2 separate regions of the Homo sapiens genome follow, and region 1 is linked to region 2. Evidence: fine-mapped expression QTL. A gene starts in region 2. The other region holds a variant in brackets. All regions are shown on one strand. Distances are from middle to middle.

Region 1 (2,909 bases), 69 kb before region 2:
GCTAAAGCCACGTAGTAAGGTAGAGAAGGAAAAAGAAAAAAGGGGGAGAAAAATAAAAGGAAAAGGAAGAAGGAAAAGAACAACCTATTCATACGCATTTAGGAGAGTTGCATTCATTCCAAGCCCTAAAGCCATACCTTGAATACAACTGATTGCGATAACCACCTTCGTAATAGTCAACTCCAGACACAGGCTGATGCCAGTCCCCTGGCCTGGATGCATAATGGGGCTGCTGCTGATGGTCTGCCCTGGGCTCCTGCTGTGGCTGGGGGCTCCCACGGTTGTCTTGCCATTGGTGAAACCTCTCTCCATTGTGCCAAGAGTGAGGGACAGGCCGATGATGTCCATCTCTCCGAAACCCTCGGTCTGGATCCTTTGAGGGTGCTGTGGCCTTCCCTCGTGTCTGGGGCAGCCTCTGGGGAGCCCAAAGTTCCATCCTTGACTCTCTGAATTTGTCCTGGGTTTTGAGTAAGTTGTGCAGTTATTTTATCTTCCTGCAGACAAAAGAAAAAGGAAAAAATCATCACTTGAAGCCTATATCCAAACATAGTGGTTGATTAGGTTTTGTGAAAAGAGCAGCTATGGTCCTCGAAATATATCTAAAACAAACCATATGGTCACGGATACAGAGAAATCTGAGAAACAATCTCAGATACATGAAGCAAATAACAGACTAGACAATTATATTAATATTGCTTAAAAAATTAAAAAGTACATGTGGAACAACGACAGATGAGGGAGGCAAGGGAGACAGATAACAATAATAGGTACAGCTAAAAATGCTATCAAGGAATCCCAGTTGATGTTTCTTCACATATTCCCCCAGCAAGTGTTTATTTAACACTTACAGCGGAGGCCCTGTGGTATCATAAACAGAGTGGGTCTTGCAGAGAGCTAGATCAGAGTTCAAATCCTAACTCTGCCACTTAACTAGCTAGTTCATTTTTTCAAGCCTCAATTTCCTTACCCATGAAATGGAGACTGTAAGGACTACCTTGCAAGGTTATTGACAGAGTTAAAGATAACCTATGCGAAGTGCGTAACATGTTACCTAACATGTTAAAATGCTCAATAAATAGCAGTGTTATCAAGGATAAAGATTAGGGTAGTATGAGTGGCTGAAGATGTTTATTAAACAAAAAGAAATTTAGACTGACCTTTTCAAGAAGCACCTTTTCTGAATCCTTACATTAACCCCCTCAAAGAACTAGAACCTATATAATATGGTCATACCTGCTCCTCCTCCAGAGGAGCCAACAAGAGGCAAATTTGGGATTGTTTTCATAAGAAAATAGAAGGCCATATCTCAGGATTCTTCCCGGTTGGAGATTTTAAATGCTGAAAGTCTCCCTAGCATCAAACTAATTTTCCCCCACGTAATCCTGAAAAAGGGAAATTGCTCCAAGGACTGATTACCTTCCAGGTTCCTCTGCCCATTGCACGGGGTAGCGGGGGACAGGGGTTGCACCCACAAAAGGAAAGCACGCCTCAGATCTTACTCTTGCTCAGGGATTCCTTGTGTCAGGAGCATCCACAGGCTAGGTCGGCCTCGATTTTTTTCTTCCTTAGGAACTGTTTTAGGTTGCAAGATTCTGATCAAATCAGTTAACTTGTTTCCACTACTGAAGGTCCCAGCCTCATATAAAAATTCATATCAGAACAAAAGGTCAAAAGAGTGGGTGTTGAAATTGAGACGTCACTCTGCTCAAACACCAGGGAGCCGAGGTCGACAGCTATGAGCCAAGAGCTATGAGAC[G/A]GCAGAACACACAAGAAGAACAAGGTGCGGAGGGGGCCTCCCACCTCAAGGTCACTCACAACTCAGGGGAACCTCTGGCTTCCTTCCCATATCATCTCACTCCCTTGAAAAAGCCAGGTGCAATGACAGCCTTTGCCAGCAAATCCCAGGAAAGGCCAAATGTCCCAGACACAGGGAAGGGCACATGAGCCTTTTCTGAAGGCTGGTGGAACTCAAAACCATTTGGACCAAGTAAGCAGAATGAGAAGAAACCTGCTTTCTCCTTGTCCCCAGATAGTCTCATTAGGCAGCCCTTTCCCAACTGCAAAGGTGCAACACCCAATCTTTCCACTGAAATCACATCATTTTGCTGCCAAGAGACATCAACTCCAGCAAATCAGTCCTCAGATTAAGGACACCAAATAAATAACACCTTCGATTCTCAAAATGAAGGAATTACATCTATGATGACAAATCAGACTCACACATTCATGTAGATGACCTTTCCTAGCCCCAGTAAAGGCAATCTTGCCTTTCCTAATCTGACGGCACAGCACGTCCAGCTCAAAGAGGGGAAAGAAGGGAGCGAGTGTTCCCACACACCTGCTCTGATGGCTTCCCACCTTCCTTCAGCGCTGCTCCAGGGACCTGGCCCAAGAGTGCCTCCTCTCCTCTTGGAGACTGTCAAAGTCCAGGTGCCACATCTACCAAGACTCCCCAGGCCCTCAGATCTACATCATGTCAGTTACCTTTGCAACTGCCCAACCTCCATGGAGCTGATTCATTAGGGCAAAGTACAGCCCAGATACCGCAGCCCAGGACCCGCCTGACTTGACGAATTTGCTCAGAACCCTGTCAGAGACTGGCGCTTCTGTTTGCCTGAGCATGGGCTGAGCCAGGTTCACTCACATGAGAAATCATCCAAATTCCCACAGCAATCACGGAAGAGAGACATCAGGAAGAGGAAGTCCAGAAGCCCCAAGGCAGCCTGGTCTGGCGAGAAAAGCACCACCTTTGGGGTGTTAACTCGGGGCTCTACCACTAGCTGGTTCTGTTACTTAACCTCTCCGAGTTTCAGTTTCTTTTTCTTTAAAATGGGAATGGCAATGCTTAGCTTATGAGGGTCATTACGGGGCTGAAATGTTGGTAAAGCAGCACATGATATATAGGTAAG
Region 2 (2,909 bases):
AAAGCCTAGCGTTCTGTTTTAACAAGCCTCAAGACCAGGGGTTCCCAACCCCGGGGCCACAGACCGGTATGCTGTCAGGAATCCAGCTGCACAGCAAGAGGTGAGCAGACAAAGCAAGCATACCGCCCAGCTCTGCCTCCCGTCAGATCAGTGGCGGCATCAGATTCTCACAGAAGTGCGAACCGTATTGTGAACTACACAGGCAAGGGATCCAGGTTGCGCACTCCTTATGAGAATCTAATGCCTGAGGATCTGCGGTGGAACAGTTTCATTCCAAAACCATCCCCTCCAACCCCCATCAGTCCATGGAAAAACTGTCTTCCACAGAACTGGTGCCAAAAAGGTTGCGGACCGCTGTGCTAGACAACCACTGTCATAAACCAACACATCCCAACAGGGGTTGGAATTACTGGAAGAAATGAAAGCTGAGACACCAAAGGGATGATATTGATTTGTTTGTACAGAGGTGGCCATATTGGTGAGAAGAAATTTTTATCTACAAAATTCATTCATTCAACAATTTTTTAAGCCTCTGCCACATGCCAGGAACCATTTTAGACTTAAGGGATTTAGTAGTGAGTAAAACAAACATAGTCACAGCTCTCATGGGCTAATTCCTTACAATGCAATGTCTAGGACAAATAACAGAACAAAGGAGCCTAGCCCTCAGCCTGGACACATTCCATGCAGGACACATCAGTTATTGACAGGCATGCACAGGGCACACATGTGTTCTCCAGCCACTCCACCTAGATTTAAGGATGATTTGAGGATGAATGTCGTTCAGCATGTGAATCCCAGGAAGTAGATTGGCTGCCATCATGTGCTCATTCAAATAATCCGTGTTAGCCATGTTAGTTAACAGGCTCCATGCTGGTAACACTTCAGGGCTATGGCTGCCTTTCTCCCTCTCCCTGAAGGTCTCCAACACTGAGGCCCACTATCTGCTTCACGCTGTCTGAGGTTCTCATCTCCACACCAGATGACACTGTGTTACTAGAGTGGTCAATAGGCAAGGCCAAAATGATGTCCACATTTCAGTGGACCAGCTGCCCACATCCCTAAACGAACCCCATCCCAAATGTCTGCAATATACCAGAGGCGTATGTTCACATGGAAACACGGAGGTTACCGGGCTGGTTTCAGGGAGGCAGAGGCCGAATAATTCGATTCCGGCACTGAGGTGGAAGGAAGCAAAGGATGAGGTCCATGTACCTGTGTTAAACCAATAACTTGCACATACAAAGTCGTGTGCAAATCAGAATTCTCTGTTTCTAAGGCAACAGCTCTGAGCATTGAGAAAGAGGCCTATAGGCGTGTTTTGGGGGAACAATCTTCCTTTAGCACTTTAGACCTTGGAAAGGGCTTCAGCCCCCTAGCTATCCCAGGACGAAGTTGCCCTCCACTCTCTCGGTCGCCCCCTCGCTTCAGAACTGGGAACTTGATTCAAGAAGGAAGCCTGCGGGGAGTGTGTGGTGGCGGGGAGAAGGGGAGGGTAGAAGGGGATAAGCCAGCCCCCTACCTCGTGAGGCCCGACGGGGCGGGGGCCACCTCTTCAATGGTCAGGGGCTTCTTCAGCTCTGCGCAAATCGCAGCGCGGTAGTGCCGGCCGCTGCCCTGTCCGGCTCTCCTGCAACACAAAACAAGGGAAGGGTCAGTCGGGCAGCCCCGCCGGGAGCACCCTGGGACTGCCTTGCGGGGCTCAGGGAGGAGTCGGGGTTGCACCTGCAGACCCACGCCCGAGGGAGGCACTGCCTGCAGAGCACGGCCGCCAAGGCCAAGCCCAGCGAGGGGCGAGGGGGAGTGGCCAGAGCGCGGCAGGAAGAGCCGGACAGCGCCGCCCAGCCCCGGGAGAGCGGAAGGGCGGCCCGCGAGGCCTCCTGGCGACGCGCCCTGGCAGCCACGACCCAACCCCGGCGGGGCAGCTCCGGTCCAGTGCGCCCGGCTTCTACGGCCGCCGAGACCAAACGACCGCGCGAGCTCCCTGTTGGGCCTCTCTGGAGGTGGAGCCGGCTGGAAGAAAAAAAGAATAAAGGAAAACACCAGGAAACGGAATTCGATTACCCGAGATTAACCTTCTTTGGCATTTTTATAACAAATTTGGGAGACTTTTTTTTTTTGTAGTTTCAACTTTTATTTTAGATTCAGGGGCTACATGTGCAGATGTGACCTGGGTATATTGTGTGATGCTAAGGTTCAGGGTACGAATCATCTCGTCACTTCGGTGCTGAACATAGTACCTAATAGTTTTTCAACCCTTGCCCCCCTCAAAATTGGGAAACTTTTTAAACCACACTTGGCGACATTTAAATAGTGGTTCTTGGCTGGGTGGTTAACGCCTGTAATCCCAGCACTTTTGGAGGCCAAGGCGGGTGGTGGCCAGTGTCTGTGGTCTCAGCTACTCAGGAGGCTGAGGCGGGAGGGTCGCTTGAGTGCAGGAGTTGGAGGCTGCGGTGAACTATGATCGCACCACCCTGAGTGACAGAGTGAGACCTTCTCTATCGATTAGATAGATAGACAGACAGACAGATGATACATAGATAAAGGTTATTGGGTCCTCTGCCAGTGCAAAAAATCCTAAATGCACAGGTAAAGGCTTTATTTATGTATTTATTTTTGAGACAGTGTCCTTCTCTGTCACCCAGGCTGGAGTGTAGTGGCACTATTTCGGCTCACTGCAACCTCCGCCACTTAGGGTCAAACCATCCTCCCGCCTCAGCCTCCCATGTAGCTGGTACTATAGTTGTGCGCCACCATATCTGGCTAATTTTTGTATTTTTTTAAAGACGGGTTTCATCATTTTGCCCAGGCTGGTCTCGAACTCCTGGCCTCAAGCGCCCTGCCCGCCTCAGCCTTCCAAAGTGCTAGGATTACAAGTGTGAGCCACCACACCTGCCTAGGTGAAGGCT

Evidence for each region. PIP is the estimated chance that this variant, and not a neighbour inherited with it, causes the effect.
Region 1: its variant is fine-mapped to the expression of CRYZL2P-SEC16B in tibial nerve (GTEx, PIP above 0.99). The same link has a PIP of 0.9 or more in atrial appendage.

Annotation. Positions count from the first base shown.
Region 1 is chr1:177,967,546-177,970,454 of GRCh38, forward strand. CRYZL2P-SEC16B (CRYZL2P-SEC16B readthrough) reads right to left here. Exons shown (of 32, transcript NM_001356506.2): 8 at 138-494. The coding sequence starts at 436. It overlaps SEC16B (SEC16 homolog B, endoplasmic reticulum export factor), which reads right to left and starts at 2,513. Exons shown (of 26, transcript NM_033127.4): 1 at 2,339-2,513; 2 at 138-494. The coding sequence starts at 436. The variant G/A (reference allele first, on the strand shown) is at 1,757.
Region 2 is chr1:178,036,172-178,039,080 of GRCh38, forward strand. It overlaps CRYZL2P-SEC16B (CRYZL2P-SEC16B readthrough), which reads right to left and starts at 1,805. Exons shown (of 32, transcript NM_001356506.2): 1 at 1,726-1,805; 2 at 1,523-1,630. It also overlaps the pseudogene CRYZL2P.